2 separate regions of the Homo sapiens genome follow, and region 2 is linked to region 1. The links come from fine-mapping of genetic effects on gene expression. Tissue or cell type: whole blood. Region 1 holds a variant in brackets; the other region holds the start of a gene. All regions are shown on one strand. Distances are from middle to middle.

What was found. PIP is the estimated chance that this variant, and not a neighbour inherited with it, causes the effect.
Region 2: NMUR1 starts here. The variant in region 1 is fine-mapped to the expression of NMUR1 in whole blood (TOPMed, PIP above 0.99). The same link has a PIP of 0.9 or more in adrenal gland.

Annotation. Positions count from the first base shown.
Region 1 is chr2:231,549,989-231,558,164 of GRCh38, reverse strand. It overlaps LOC105376787 (a long non-coding RNA gene), which reads right to left. Exons shown (of 4, transcript XR_001739928.2): 4 at 6,540-7,051. Among named protein-coding and RNA genes, the nearest start is that of NMUR1, 24 kb to the right of the region's middle. RefSeq lists an enhancer at 2,506-2,565. The variant T/G (reference allele first, on the strand shown) is at 3,210.
Region 2 is chr2:231,525,847-231,534,022 of GRCh38, reverse strand. It overlaps NMUR1 (neuromedin U receptor 1), which reads left to right and starts at 3,578. Exons shown (of 3, transcript NM_006056.5): 1 at 3,578-3,664; 2 at 5,006-5,900. The coding sequence starts at 3,662. It overlaps LOC105376787 (a long non-coding RNA gene), which reads right to left and starts at 1,853. Exons shown (of 4, transcript XR_001739928.2): 1 at 1,184-1,853. RefSeq lists enhancers at 1,892-2,626, 5,116-5,642, 5,643-6,170, 7,276-7,777 and a silencer at 3,321-3,750.

The DNA.
Region 1 (8,176 bases):
AATTTTCCCAAGTATATCACTTAATCTTTACACCTACCCCAGGAGGTAAATTATGAAATTTGGCTGAAGAAGCAACTTCTTACCATCAGGGGGCAGACTTGGGACAGGAACCCAGGACGCTGACTCCAGATGCAGAGAGCAAAACTTGAGCCTCAGCAGTTCTCAAGGCATGGTCCTAACCTAGCAGTAGAGTGTCGCTGGAGACTTCCTAGGCATGCGTGTTCTTGGGCCTGCCGCTGCCTGGCTGACTTGGGAACTCGGGCTGGGCCCAGCTGTCTGAGTTGCAATCAGCAGTGAGGAGACTCTGGGAGACACCAACGATTGACCACTGGGCTCTCCTTGACAGCCGGCTTTCCTTCCTGCCCAGGAAGGCACCCTGAGCCCCTTCCGTTTCCCCCTTTCCCTGACTTCAGTGACAGCCCCATCTGCCTGCTGGACGCAGATGAGAGCCACTGGAGATGCTGCCCTGCCCCTCCCAGCTTCAGGGACTACTCCAACTGCCCCAGCGCCTGTCTGCAGCATGGCCTCAGGGTGCTTGTGTGAGGGCCAGAGCCCCTCCCTCACAGTGAGTGGGGGTTCCTGGTCCGCAGTTGGGGTCTGTGTATTGGAGAATCCGGCGTCGGGCGGAGGTGGAATGTGATTCCGAGGGGAAGGTCTCAAGTCATGGGCGCTTCTGGACTAGAACGGGGAAAGCCTAGGGTGAGAGAGTTAGGAAAGGGGTCCCAGGCCAGGAGAGGAAGGAGCACCCACGGTCAGGTGGGAAACCCTCGGGACTGTCCTCCTGAGGGGTTTTTCTGAACAGACTGTGTGTGCCTCAATGGAGTGTCTTGGAAACAGCAGGAGAGGTGCCCACTCTCCTCCCTGCCTGAAGCCTGGTGGCCCCTCTGCCCTGGGACACTTGCTCTGGACTTTGAAGTTGGCTGGGCCCTCTTGGGTCTGTGTTCCCGGGAGACCATGAAGGACCTGGCCTGCTGGGTGGTCTAAGACCCGTTAAGACACAGGCCCAGGGCCTGGGGAATCCACCCAGCAACTGGGTTTGGAGCCGGGCCCTTCAGGGGCTTGCCGAGGAGGAGCAAAACCAGGACACCAGAGCCTGGGCTGATGGTCGAATTCATCCGGTCTAGATATCAGCTGTTTCAGATCGAGTCACTTCATTTGGTAACTGTACCCATTTCATTTGGTTCTCTCATGGGCATTCATTTAAAACATCACTTTCAGCCGGTTGCAGTGGCGCACACCTGTAATCCCAGCACTTTGGGAGGCCGAGGTGGGCGGATCACTTGAGGTCAGGAGTTTGAGACCAGCCTGGCCAAAATGGTGAAACCCTGTCTCTACTAAAATATGAAAAATTAGCTGGGCATGGTGGCACGTGCCTGTAATCCCAGCTACTCGGGAGGCTGAGGGAGGAGAATTGCTTGAACCCAGGAGGCAGAGATTGCAGTGACCCGAGATCGCACCGCTGCACTCCAGCCTGGAAGACAGAGCGAGACTCGGTCTCAAAAAAACAAAAACAAAAACAAAAAACAACATCACTTTTGAGCCAGACCTCTGGACCCTTGACCTTCCATGACCCCCTGGCCTGACCAAGCAGTGCCCCTGGTGTGTCTCTCATCTCTACCTCCAGCTAAGCTGGGTATTTATATTTTCCATCTAGGAAACAAGTGGAATAAATACCAAGCCTATGAATGTTAGAAATTTCCAAATTAAGTTCATTGCTGAGCTTTAGAGGGCTTACTTTTGGCCCCCAATTTCCACTCTTGGTGGGTTTAATCTCAGCCCTTGAGGGCTCTCTCCTTCCAGGTCATTCCCGTGCTGAGGCCAGGGTGGGTGGGCAGCAGGTCCCCAGTCAGTAACCCACACCATGGCTGCAAGATTCTCTTTGGCTGTTTTTTTTTTTGTTTTTTGTTTTTTGTTTTTTGTTTTTGAGACAGAGTTTCACTCTTGGTGCCCGGGCTGGAGCGCAATGGCATGATCTTGGCTCACTGCAACCTCTGCCTCCAGGGTTCAAGTGATTCTCCTGCCTCAGCCTCCTGAGTAGCTGGGATTACAGGCGTGTGTCACCACGCCTGGCTAATTTTTGTATTATTATTATTTTTTGAGACAGAGTTTTGCTCTTTGTTGCCCAGTCTAGAGTGCAGTGGTGCAATCTCAGCTCACTGCAACCTCTGCCTCCCGGGTTCAAGCAATTCTCCTGTCTCAGCCTCCCGAGTAGCTGGGATTACAGGCGCCCACCACCATACCTGGCTAATTTTTGTATTTTCAGTAGAGACAGGGTTTCACCATGTTGGCCAGGCTGGTCTCAAACTCCTGACCTCATGATCCACCTGCCTCGGCCTCCCAAAGTATTGGGATTATAGGCGTGAGCCACGACACCCAGCCTTTTATTTATTTATTTATTTATTTTGAGACAGTATCTCACTCTGTTACCCAGGCTGGCAGGCTGGAGTACAGTGGCAGATCTCTGCTCACAGAAGCCTTGACCTCCCAGACTCAAGCAATTCTCCCACCTTACCCTCCCAAGTAGCTGGGACTACAGGTGCACAACACCATGCTCAGCTAATTTTTGTACTTTCTGTAGGTTTTGCTGTGTTGCCCAGGCTAGTCTTGAACTCCTGACCTCAAGTGAGCGGCCTACCTCATCCTCCCAGAGTGTTGGGATTGGAGGCATGAGCCACTGTGCCCAGCCTCTCTTTGTCTTTCTGCCAGATTCTTGAAGGTCAGCTGCTCCCCACAGCTTGGGGCTGCCCTTGGGCCTCAGGACTTCTTTGACGTGGCCCTGGGTCCTCTTCCTGGATGTCTCAGGGCAACAGCATCCCTCTCTTCGTCTCGCCTCATGTCCAGGAGCAGGACCCAGGAAACAGGCCCCCTGCCCTCCTACTCTCGCTGCTCCTTACCTCCCCCCTGCCCATCTTTCCCTCCTGTCCTCTAACTGGGGGGAGAGGACCAGAGGACCTTGTCCCCTGCTTCCAGTCAGACACTCTGCCCTTCTTTCCTTCTACTTGCTCAGTAAACCCTCCAAGTTCTCCTGAGACCTTCAGCTTTAAGAAAACAAAAGCCAGAAGGACCTTCAGGGAGGAAGAGGCCCTGCAGAGTGGGTGGCCTGGGGTGGCGTGGGAGGGCAGAGGCGGAGACAGCTGGGAGGCTGAATCAACAGGACTTACTGTCTGTGGATGGTGAGGAGAGGAAGACGTCAAAGCCGAGCCAGAGAG[T/G]CCAGGAGGTCCAAACTGGAGACGTGAAGAAGCTGTCCTCTTCATGGGGAAAGTGAAAGCTGCGGCCTCGCCTGTGGGCGTGTCCAGAGGACCATGGAAAGGACAGTGGTGGGAAGAAGCAGGGCCAGGGGAAGAGCTGAGCCTGGATGCTGGGCCTGGAGGGAGGGCAGGGGCAGCCTTGGTAAGGACCACCCTGCGGAGTGAGAAGGGAGCCTGCAGAGGGAGGGCAGAGGGCCAGGCCTCGCATGAAGACTGCTTTATTTAGGGGATGGAGGCAGAGGAGCGGGAGAAAGGGCTGGGAAGGCTTACAAATAGTGGACAGGGACCAGCCTGGCCCACAGCCCCACGCGGGCAGTGGGTGGGAAAAGGAATCGAGATGTCAGTGTGTCTCCAGTGAGCCCTGTGTGCAGTTGGTGCTGGGCATGGGTGTGTTGGCTCAGTATGAGGGCTGAGTATGTGCTGGCTGAGTACACAGACGAAGGAAGGAAATGTGTGAGTCTGGTGAGGCTGCTGCAACAAACTGCCACAGACTGGGGGGCTCAAAACATAGCAATGAATTTTTTCACGGTTCTGGAGGCTTGAAGTCCAAGATCAAGGTGTCAGCCGGACTGGCTTCTTTGGAAGCCTCTCTCTGGCTTGTAGATGGCCACCTTCTCTGCTTCTTCACGTGGACTTCCCTCTATGAGTGTCTGTGTCCTGATCTTGGTTTTGTTTTTTTTTTTTTTTTGAGATGGAGTCTTGCTCTTGTCACCCAGGCTGGAGTGCAATGATGCGATCTCTGCTCACTGCAACCTCTGCCTCCCAGTCTCAAGCAATTCTTCTGCCTCAGCCTCTTGAGTAGCTGGGACTACAAGTGCACGCCACCACACCCAGCTAATTTTTGTATTTTTAGTAGAGATGGGGTTGTGCCATGTTGACCAGGCTGGTCTCAAACTCCTGACCTCAGGTGATCCGTGCACCTTGGCCTCCCAAAGTGCTGGGACTATAGGCATGAGCCACCATGCCTAGTCCTGATCTTGTCTTCTTATAAGGACTCCAGTCATATTGGATAGAGCCCGCTCCCATGACCTCATTTAACTCTACTTCTTCAAAGATCCTATGTCCAAATACAGTCATACTAATTGAGGGTTAGGACTTCAGCTTATGAATTTTGGGATGACAATTCTGCCCATAACGAGGAGCATCTACATATTGTCAGGGAGAGAAAATATACACACTTAAGTAATGGACAAGATAGTGTACAGTTATTTGCTAAACTGTGTGCTATAAACAAATGAGAAAATAAGAAAGTATATAAGAAATGACTACACATGGAGACACTGAAGAAAATATAGTTCAATAATGCTTTGAACCCTCAACCAGCTTTAAATAAGAGCAGAAAATCTCTGGGTGCTGGGAATACAAAGGGAACATAAAATGAGAGAGTTAGTGGGAGGAGAAGTTGAAATGGCTCATGGAGTTTTGGAGCCAGATGTTGGCCTTCAATGCTTTGGGCAGGGGTTTTGAAATTACAAAGGGGACCAAGAAATTAGCATAACTGGCACATCTCGGCAGCTTGAGAGAGGCAAATGCAAAGCCTCTCTGTAGGATTGTTTCTACAATTTAGGAATGAGAGACTCCCATGGAAAGCATCCCCCACTGAGTTGAGCTCACAAGGGGTCAAAAATTAGAAAAGCAACAGTCAGAAGGAAATAGGAAGAATAGCCTCCCAAGGAATATAATTAATAGAAAAATCTAAAATGTACTCTAATGCAAAGTGTTTAAAGTGTTCACAGGAAAAAAAAAAGAGCTATAAACCATAATGTAAGGACTGAATAAAATGAAAACAGGATAGGCAGATTTGAAAAATAATTAAACAAAAGTTATAGCTATAAAAATACAACTACAGAACAGGAAAAAACATCATTGGATGAGTGAAATGGTATTTTAGACACAGCCAAAGAAAGAATTAGTGAATTAGAAAACAAAGCTGAAGAAATTTTCCAGAATGCATCACAATGAGGTAAAGAAATGGAGTTGGGAGGAGAGAATGAAATGATGCAGCAGCCATTAAACAAGAGTTCCAGAGGAAGAGAATAACAGAATGAGAGAGTTCATACTTGAGGAGCTAGAAATGGCCAAACCTGTGCTAAATAATGTAAATAAGTGTTACATAATTAAAACAAGAAAAGAAAAAGACCAATTTCACTTTAATGCAACCACTTATAATAGAAGACCCATATAGTGCTTGCTACATGCCAGGCATTGTTTTAAGCACTTTACATATATTAACTTGTTTTCTAGAAAATAATACTTCAGGGCTGGGCATAGTAGCTCACACCTGTAATCCCAGGGCTTTGGGAGTCTGAGGCAGGAAGATTGCTTGAGGCCAGGAGTTTGAGATCAGCCTAGGCAACATAGTGAGAACCTGTCTCTACAATTTTTTTTTTTTTTTTTAATTAGCCAGGCATGGTAGTACTTGCCTGTAGTCCTAGCCACTCGGAGGCTGAGGTGGGAACCCAGGAGCTTGAGGCTGCAGTGAGCTATGATCATGCCACTGCACTCTAGCCTGGGTGACAGAGAGCAAAACCCTGTCTTTAAAAAAGTTTTTTAAAATAAAAAAAGAAGATAATACCACAAAGATGAGAGGAGATTGGCATTAAAATATTCTAAGTTCATTATATTATTTGAGAAAAATATGGAGATTTTAATATGTTTAAATATCGGTTCCTTCTGTATGAAGAGGAATAAATATTGAACTCAACTTGATTTCTTTTTTCTTTTTTTTTTTTTTTTTTTTTGAGATGGAATTTCACTCTTGTTGCCCAGGCTGGGGAGCAATGGTGTGATCTTGGCTCACTGCAATCTCCATCTTCCAGGTTCAAGTGATTCTCCTGCGTCAGCCTCCCCAGTATCTGGGATCACGGGCATGAGCCACCACACCCGGGTAATTTTGTATTTTTAGTGGAGATGCCGTTTCACCATGTCAGCCAGGCTGGTCTTGAACTCCTGACCTCAGGTGATCCACCTGCCTTGGCCTCCCAAAGTGCTGGGATTATAGGCGTGAGCCACTGCTCCTGGACAACTTGATTTCTTTCTTTTCTTTCTTTTTTTTTTTTTAGATGGAGTTTTGCTCTTGTTGCCTAGGCTGGCGTGCAATGGTGCGATCTCAGCTCACCGCAACCTCTAGCTCCCGGGTTCAAGCAATTCTCCTGCCTCAGCCTCCTGAGTAGCTGGGATTACAGGCATGCACCATCATGCCCAGCTAATTTTGTATTTTTAGTAGACACGGGGTTTCTCCATGTTGTTCAGGCTGGTCTTGAACTCCCGACCTCAGGTGATACACCCGCCTTGGCCTCTCACAGTGGTGGGATTACAAGCGTGAGCCACCACGCCCAGCCCCAACTTGATTTCTTAATGATGATCACTGGACCTCCTTCTGCTCCCTGCCTTCTGGGTACTTGGCAGGATGACATTTCCTGGCTGTCTTACCATTGATTAGACGGAGCCATGGGGCTAGTTCTGGCCAATGAGTAGAAGTGATTTGACATCCAGGCTAAATATTTAGTTACCAGTACCCTCCAGGGCTCTAATAGAGTGATGTTCAACATGGTGGTTACTCCATCAGCATCAGCCCATCGGTGACATAGATAAGAAGAATACCCCTCTTGTCTCCCTGTAGAGACCCTGAGAAAGAAAAACTTTTATTGTGTTCAGGGCTGGACTAGAAGCTTCATAGTATCACCAGAGACTCATGTTTCCTCTGCCTTTCAGCTCTGCCATTCTTAGGGTGTGATGTCTAGCCTCCAGATCACTTCAGGGTCCATGATAGCTGCTGGACCTCCAGCCATCACATCTGTATTCTAGAAAGGAATTAGGAGATGGAGGCTAAGGAGAAGGTATAAAAATAGCTTTCATCAGCTGTCTGTCCCCAACCCTCTCTTTATTTTTTATTTTTTTGTAGCAACGGGGTCTCATCATGTTGCCCAGGCTGGCCTGAGCTCAAGTGATTTGCCTGCCGCACCCTTCCAAAGTGCTGGGATTACAGATGTGAGCCACTGTGCCCGGCTAGCCTCTTTTTTTTTTTTTTTTTTTTTTTTTGAGACGGAGTTTCACTCTTGTTGCTCAGGCTGGAGTGCAATGGCACGATCTCCCCGCTCACTGCAACCTCTGCCTCCCAGGTTCAAGTGATTCTCCTGCCTTAGCCTCCCGAGTAGCTGGGATTACAGGCATGCACCACCACGCCTGGCTAATTTTGTATTTTTAGTAGAGACAGGATTTCTCCATGTTGGTCAGGCTGGTCTCGAACTCCTGGCCTCAGGTGATCTGCCTGCCTCGGCCTCCCAAAGTGCTGGAATTACAGGTGTGAGCCACCGCGCCTGGCCTTTTTTTTTCTTTTGAGATGGAGTTTTGCTCTTGTTGCCCAGGCTGGAGTGCAAAGGCACGATCTTGGCTCACTGCACCCTCCGCCTCCCAGGTTCAAGCGATTCTCCTGCCTCAGCCTCCCGAGTAGCTGGGATTACAGGTGCCCGCCACCATGCTTGGCAAATTTTTGTATTTTTAGTACAGGCAAGATTTTACCATGTTGGCCAGGCTAGTCTTGAACTCCTGACCTCAGGTGATCCACCTGCCTTGGCCTCCCAAAGTGCTAGGATTATAGGCATGAGCCACTGTGCCCAGCCTCCCTCTCTCTCTCTCTCTTTTTTTTTTTTTTTAGAGACATAGTCTCCTTCTGTTGCCCAGGCTGGAGTGCAGCGGCTATTCACAAGCATGATCTAGCTTACTACAGCCCAGAACTCCTAGGTTCAAGCAATCCTCCAAGCAACTGTGTATGTCTCTCTTAAACCGTTTCCTCATAAGTCCCACTCTACAACCTCTGAATGGCCTCCTGTAGTTGGGAAATGTAGTCATTTAGCTGAGACATGCAGTGTAAATGGTCACTTGGAAAAACAAACAGTCTAGGATCTGTCAGTCAGGAAATAGGGAGA
Region 2 (8,176 bases), 24 kb after region 1:
GTGACCGGCTCCCTGTGCCCAGCACCCTGCCTGAAGCCTGTGAGCTGGCTGTCTCTGGGAGAGCTCAGGAACAGGCCTCACAGCCCTCAGGGGGCAAGGGGCTAGACAGTCCCCAGTGGTCCCCTCTAGGAGCAGGAGAGGCAGGGGCGATGCTCCCCGGAGGTCTCCTCCGCTGCTGGTCCCCACCGGGCTGCAGGGCCCCGACTGCCTGCACTGTGGCTGGGCTCCCTGCAAGCCTGTGTGCTCCTTTCCACTGGGACTCAGCTCTCCTTCCCGGGGTGCTGGGGACCTTGCCCTTCCAAACCCTACTAAGGACAGCTCCCACCCCAGCCCTGCCTCCCAGCAGCTTTCTGGTATCTTCCAGAGAATTCCAGGCTCTTCAACCCTGCACTGAGTGCTTAAACCCACATTATCACTCTTAATCCTCATGGCATCCCTGAAGGACAGGGGCTATGTTTGTGTTTTACAGGCAAAGAAGCTGAGGCCTGAAGCGCAAAGTGGCTTATCTGAGGCCACGCTGGCAGAATGCGGAGTCTCACTCTGGCCTCACAGCCTCCAAAGCCTGTACTCACCATGTTCCCTGCCTGGCTTGACCATCTCTCCCACCAGTTTCTGTGAGCAGACCAGGGCTGGTGGCTCAGGGAGCATGGGTGCATGATCACACAAAAGCCACGTGGCTCCCTGAGGTGCAATCCCAGCCCCCAAGTTCGGAACCCCATCACCTGAGGGGCCCAGACCATCCTCCTCTAGCTCCTGGCCATGGCCAGGCTGGGACCCCACAGAGCAGAGCTGGGTAGGGAGCTCTCTGACCTTGGGAGGTGCCCAGATGGGTACAGCGACTCTCCCTTGCTTCGGATATTTACTGTTCTTGTTCTCCATGTTTGCCCAATGAAGCCTAGTGATGGGGGTCCTGGGTGATCCCCATTGCCCAGGCTGCAGAACAGTGCCTCCCTCCTGTCCAGAGCTACAGTGTCCCCAAGCTCATCTCATCCTCCCTGCCTCCCCTCTGTAGGCAGTAAGTGGGGTGGGGTTGGGGCGTTTCTGGGGGAACCATGGGCTTGCCAGGAGCTGCGGGTCAGCCCAAGGCTGAGAAGGTTCTGGTTTAAGCCTGGCCTGAGTTTAAGCAGCCCCTCTTGGCTCTCAGGGACTCAGCAGGATGAGGAGGGGATACGGAGCTACTCACATGCCTCTGGCCCCATGAGTCCTGCACACGCCTGGGACTTGGGTGGTATCTCAGCAGCTCCTGGAGGTCCCAGTGGCCCTCCCTGAATGCATTTGCTGTTGTGCAGAGTTGGGTCCTTGGCCCCCTCATCTGGGCAGACGCCCACCAGCCAAGCTTAGATGGATGTGTACACCCAGAAAACTGGGGGGTGCCACCTCAGGACGGAGCAGGAGCAGCAGGATGTCATACGTTTCTGATGGGACACTACCGTGGTGGCCTTGAGCTCAGGCCCGGAGGCCAGGGCCCCTAGGGCCCTCTGCACAGTGCGGAAGTGAGGGCCACAGCCATTGTGGCCACTGAGCCTCTCCTTTTTGGGGGCTGCTCTTTAGCCTTTGATGGCTGCTAATGTTATGTGAATGATGCAACCCGCTGTAGGAATTCCTGACTGGCAAGAGTCATTCTGCCTCTGCAAGGCTAGGTGGGTCCTTCCCCATCCCCTCCAGGGCTGTGTGAACCAAAGGGTCCACGGGGACTTTCGGACTGCTCAGAGTCTGTGCAGAGTGGTATGTGTGTGCGCGTGTGTGTGGTGTGGTATGTGCAGAGTGATGTGTGCATGCATGTGTGTGTATGTGTGTGTACATGCATGTGCGTGTGTGTGTGTGTTCCAGTGAAGGGCTGGGGTCCAAATGCTCCTCACTTGCTAAGAGCAGCCTGTGATGCCACAGTGGTCTCTGATGCTGAGTGATGTCATCCCTCCTTGCCCGTCTGTTGTGCTGGCAGCCCTGTTACTGAGGATTTCTCCTGGACTAGCTCATCAGGGGCTGAGTAGTTAATTCCCAGGGCACCACAGAATCCTTTCTCCCAAGGCCCTGAGGACCACGTGCCCCTGCACTTCCCACAACCGTCCCCTGCCTGGGACTCTGTTTACATGTGGAGTTCCTGGGAAGGCCGGCCTGGTGCAGGCTCCTTGAGGGCCTAACTCCCATCCCCAAGCCCAGACAGTGACTTATGGAATTGGGGGGCAGTGGGGAGGAGGAGGGTGCAGGAAAGCGGGGGGAAGGAGGAGCCTCCAGTTGCCACTAAATGGTGACAATCCCACCCCACATTTCTTGAGTGTTGGCCATGTGCCAGCCCCTGTGCTGAATCTTGACGCTCAGTGTCTCATGTCACCTTCACAATAGTGGCGATGGTGGTTAGCCCATTCTACAGGAAGGGGAACTGAGGCACACAGAGCTTCTGAGCTCACGGTGGCCTCTCGGGGTCCTGTGGCTTTGTAACCTCTCCTGGTGCTCCTCAGTGTGATTCTGGGGCATGGGGCTCTCCAGAGGGCGTTTGTCAAACATGAGGATTTCTGGGCCTTGCCCAGGCTAAGGAGACAAAACTCTGGGCAAAGGCCCCGGAACCAGCATTTTACTCTGTGTGATCCGTCATTTCTAGGGTCCCTAGAAGTTTCTGATGAAACAGCTTCCAGCTAAGGAGCTGATTGCAGGACTAGGGAGTGGGAGCAGGTGAGGCACTGGGATTTGCATGTGGGCAGTGTGGGGGAGCAGGAGGCTGTGGCTGGGCATTCTTAACCCTTCCCTAAATTCCCTCCATCCTTGTCTATACCCCCACCCTTGGTACAGTGATGGGGGCAGAAGAACATTTGAACGGATAAGGGGGACAGTATTTGGGGCTGAGGACAATGGTGAGGAGAGGGTGGCCCAGGGAGGCAGGTGAGGAGTGGGGAGGTCCACCCCCAGGCTAGACTTTGGTGTGCTCTTTTTCAGAAGGCAGTGGGGGGGCCCCAAGGAAGGGTTTCGAGGGGGTGATGGTCGTTGGTGGCTGTGGGAGGATGGACTGGAGGGAGAATAGGGGGCTCTTGCCCAGTCCTGCAGGGCCGAGCGCCTGGACTCAGGGACTGGAGGCCCCGAAGGGAGCAGCGGGTGAGAGGGGCTGCGGAGGCTGCAATCATGGGCCTTGGGACAGAAGAAGAGGCCTGGAGCCTGGGAGGATGAACCGCACCGGGGCATGTCGACTTCAAGGGGCTGGTGGGCCGTCCCTGTCCTTGGAGGTGGGTCTGAATGGGGGGCAGGAGGAGCTGGAGGCCGCAGGGACACCGTGACGGCGTTAAGCTAAACTCAGCACGCTGGAGGGCGGGAATCACATGTGAGCCCCAGGTCTCTCGGGCTCCTCCTCTGCGGCTCTCTGAGGCTCAGTTTTCTCATCTGTAAAACGGGTTGTTGTGAGGGTTCCGTCAGATAACGCTGCTTGTGGAGGTGTCGCCTCCACGCTGCTTGTGGAGGTGTCGCCTCCAACGGCCGCGTCCTCCGCCAGTGCGGGAGGGGGCGCCGCCCGGGCTGCGGGGACTGCACTGCCCCCTGGCGGCGTTCCCGGCCGGACAGGCGGGGCGTCGGGGCGCGGGCTGGGGCCGCTGTCAGTCAGTCCACTGGCTCCCGCGCCGCGTCTGTGTCCGTCGCTCGGAGGGTGGAAGCCGGGGTCTCGCGGGCCGCGGGCCGCATGGTAGGTGCGCAGGCGCCGGCGTGGGCTAGGGCGCGGCAGCTGGGCCGGGGCTCGGTGCGGGCAGGGTCGTCCTAGGGCGGGAAGGGTCCGAGGGCTCCGTCGGGGTGCCCCCCGTCCCCGCCACCGGGGAGCCTCGCAACTTCTCGGGTCATTTGTGTCTTCCGGCCAGGGGCGCCGGGGGGCTGCGGGCTTGCGACCCTTCCTCGAGGACCAGGGCGCCTCCCTTGAACCCGGGCTGGCGCCTGCGCGTTCCCAACTGGTTCCCGAGGCTCCCGCGCTGCTGTGCAGCGGGGGTGAGGGCGGGCGGGAGGAAGGGTGTGGGGCTCAATAGAGGAGAGGGAACCCCAGAACTGGCAGTGCCAAGGGCGTCAAATATGGAGACTGAACAGTTCAGGTGACAGAAAACAGAAAAAAGAATCAACTTGTGGATGAAGCATTTGTAGTGTGTAGCCTTGACACTCCCTCACTTGACTCTCATAGTGACTGGGTCCCCAGAGCAAGGGGGTGATCCCCGTGCCCTTCCGTATGCCAGGCAGGCCCTGTGTTAATGTCTTTAATGGATTAAACTCCCTGGATCCTCCTAATAGGGAAACAGCCTCAGAGAGGTTACCTCGCTAAAGGTCACACAGCCTGGAACTGGGGAGGCTGGATTCGAATCCAGGCAGTTGCTTCCTGAGCGCTTGCTCTTGAAGACCCTGCAATACCAGGCATTGTGCCCATTTTACAGATGCCCAAACGAGTGCCTCATCTAGCATCATTGCTTGAAAGAGGAGACACCCAAGATCTGTCATTTACTCAAAGGTTCCAATAGATCATGAAATTTAAAATCAAAACCCCACGTGTTTTTTTTTTTTTAAATGTAGATTTTTACTTTTTCGTTGTTTGCTTTTTGTTTTTTTGAGACAAGGTCTTTCTCTGTTGCCCAGGCTGGAGTCCGGTGGCACAATCTCCGCTCACTGCAACCTCTGTCTCCTGGGTTCAAACAATTCTCCCGCCTCAGCCTCCCAAGTAGCTGGAATTACAGGCGTGTGCTACCACGCCCGGCTACTTTTTGTATTGTTAGTAGAGACGGGGTTTCACCATATTGGCCAGGCTGGTCTTGAACTCCTGATCTCAAGTGATCCGCCTGCCTCGACCAAAGTGTTGGGATTACAGGTGTGAGCCACTGCACCAAGCTTATTTTTACATCTCTGACTTGTGGATGGAAGAGTTTTTTCTTTCTCAGTGGTGCCTAAAATAATGGTCATCATAGCGCTAATGTCACCTTTGGCTTGATGAGTGAGGACAGAGCCAGCATTCCCTGAATGATCTTTCTGGGCATCTCTCCCCTCTGTTCCACAGACTCCTCTCTGCCTCAATTGCTCTGTCCTCCCTGGAGACCTGTACCCAGGGGGTGCAAGGAACCCCATGGCTTGCAATGGCAGTGCGGCCAGGGGGCACTTTGACCCTGAGGACTTGAACCTGACTGACGAGGCACTGAGACTCAAGTACCTGGGGCCCCAGCAGACAGAGCTGTTCATGCCCATCTGTGCCACATACCTGCTGATCTTCGTGGTGGGCGCTGTGGGCAATGGGCTGACCTGTCTGGTCATCCTGCGCCACAAGGCCATGCGCACGCCTACCAACTACTACCTCTTCAGCCTGGCCGTGTCGGACCTGCTGGTGCTGCTGGTGGGCCTGCCCCTGGAGCTCTATGAGATGTGGCACAACTACCCCTTCCTGCTGGGCGTTGGTGGCTGCTATTTCCGCACGCTACTGTTTGAGATGGTCTGCCTGGCCTCAGTGCTCAACGTCACTGCCCTGAGCGTGGAACGCTATGTGGCCGTGGTGCACCCACTCCAGGCCAGGTCCATGGTGACGCGGGCCCATGTGCGCCGAGTGCTTGGGGCCGTCTGGGGTCTTGCCATGCTCTGCTCCCTGCCCAACACCAGCCTGCACGGCATCCGGCAGCTGCACGTGCCCTGCCGGGGCCCAGTGCCAGACTCAGCTGTTTGCATGCTGGTCCGCCCACGGGCCCTCTACAACATGGTAGTGCAGACCACCGCGCTGCTCTTCTTCTGCCTGCCCATGGCCATCATGAGCGTGCTCTACCTGCTCATTGGGCTGCGACTGCGGCGGGAGAGGCTGCTGCTCATGCAGGAGGCCAAGGGCAGGGGCTCTGCAGCAGCCAGGTCCAGATACACCTGCAGGCTCCAGCAGCACGATCGGGGCCGGAGACAAGTGACCAAGATGCTGTGTAAGTGTCACGGCTGGGAAGAGGGGCTGAGCCAGGCACTGGGTATGAGTTTGGGGCTCCTGGGGCCTGGGAGAAGGGGCTGAGTATCTGGGTTTATGGGGGACGAGGAACTCCTCTAGTCTCGTGTGTGTGTGTGTGTGTGTGTGTGTCTGAGTTGCACTCCTGTGTACTCTTTTAGATTACCCTACTAGAATCTTACACCAAAAATACCTGTTAATGGCTAACGGTAAGATTGTGTAATTTGTGGAGTCCAGTGCAACATGAAAATTCAGGGTCCCTTTTTCAAAAATGAATAAGAATGTCAAGACAGCAACAACAGAGCATTAAACCAAGCCCAGGACCCTGCTAAACTTGGGGCCCTGGCTCTGGAACCAAAACACAGAAAGGGCAGGGCATGTGGTTGGGCTCCAGGATGACAGAAAATGGGATCTGGACCCTCCAGGTCTCAGGTCTCTCCTCTTCTTTTTTTTTTTTTTTTTTTTTTTGAGACAGGGTCTTGCTCTGTCACTCAGGCTGTGGTGTGACCACGGCTCACTGCAGCCTCAACCTCCCAGGCTCAAGCGATCCTCCTACCTCACTCAGCCTCCTAAGTAGCTGGGGCTACAGGCAGGTGCCACCATGCCCAGCTAATTTTTTCATTTTTGTAGAGACGGGGTCTCACTATGTTGCCAGAGCGGATCTTGAACTCCTGGTCTCAAGTGATCCTCCCACCTCAGCCTCCCAAAGTGCTGGGATTACAGGCATAAGCCATTGCACCCGGCTCTCTTTGGTTATTAACGTGTCTTGGCCTTGTTCTTCTCGGCAGCAGCCTGTGAGGCATGGCCACCGGCACGCCATCTTCTTTCCTGAGGAACTGCTGTCTTTCCTTAGAGATGAGTGAAAAATCCCAAGAAGGATTCTGATGGGCGTGGCCTAGGTCATGCCCCACCTCCTGAGCCAGAGTGGCAGGATGCCGAGGTGCACAGCCCCCAGTGGAACTACACAGTGAGATCTGGGGGGAGCAAAGTCCCCCAGAGAAGGGGAGGAGGGTGTTGGAGAGGCCAGGTGCTGAATTTCCCCCATGCCATGTCTGCGGTTCCCTGGGAACCGCAGGAGAGACCATTTGTCTAAACAGCCCCATCCCGAGGCGTGTCTGTGAAGGCCGGGCTCAAGGCACAGGGGATCAGGCCAGAGGCCTGCGGATTAGGGCAGGCTAAGGTACTGGGATGAGGCTCTGGATCTCTGTGGCCTGGACCTGGCTCTTTTTCAAAAGCTGTGGCCCTGGGGAAGCAAGACAAACTGATACTAAGCCGATCAAAGATCCGCCCCATCCACCTACCTGCATCCCAGCTCAGCCCCACCTCAGCAGAGCCTGAATCAGGCCAGTGGGGTGAGCCAGGTCAGCAGAGGGCCACTGAGACTTTGGACAGAGCCAGCTAACTGGGGGCCGCCCCATCTCCAGAGTGACTCGCTCCTCTCACCCCTCAGACACCGTCCCAGAGCTCAGTCTCTTGTGCAGCTCCTGAAACGAGGCTGACCCCAGAGCTATGTGCATGCCTCCCAGCTCTGCACGGTGAAGCCTGTGCTCAGGACCAGCTGCCCACTGCCGCCCTGCCTCCTGCCTACTACCCCGTCCCCTCCCTGAAAACATGGGTGGGCAGAGTCTGCAGTAGGTGCTTAGCTGGGGTGGCTCACCCCTGGAAGGTGGGCTTCCTGCTTGCTGGCCTTCTCTCTTCCCTCCCTCCCTCCCTTGTCCACTTTCCGCTGGCCCTCTGTGCACCAGGCCAGGGGCCAGGGAGGTTGTGAGCAACGTCCTTTTTGAAATCTGGGATTATGAGGAAAACCATGCTAGGGTATGATGGGGAAGACACTGCCCAGGAAAGCTAGTGAGTTGCAGCAGCAAACCCAAGAAACAAGGAACAAAAATCACAGCTGACCCTGTGGCAGAGACCCAGGGAAGGGCATAGTTGGGTAAGAACAAGGCAGGAGGGATTTGGGGAGAAAGTGAAGGTTTGCCAAACTCTCCTACCTTTTGTTAGGGAGGGGGTGGGCAAGGGCCTGGCAAGTAAGATGGGGGGCAGGTTAGTGCAGGGCAAGACATTCAGATGGGCCTTGGGGAGCTGGGGGCTGGAGCTGAAAAGGCCGGGGCCAAGGCAGGCAGTGTGTGTGTGTGTGCATGTGTGTGTCTGTGTGTGTGCATGCATGTGTGTGTGTGTGCATGCGTGTGTGTGTCTCACTCTCCCTGGCCCCATGACCTCCGGTCTGCCGCTCTCTGAGCACGTGCCCCATTCTTCTTT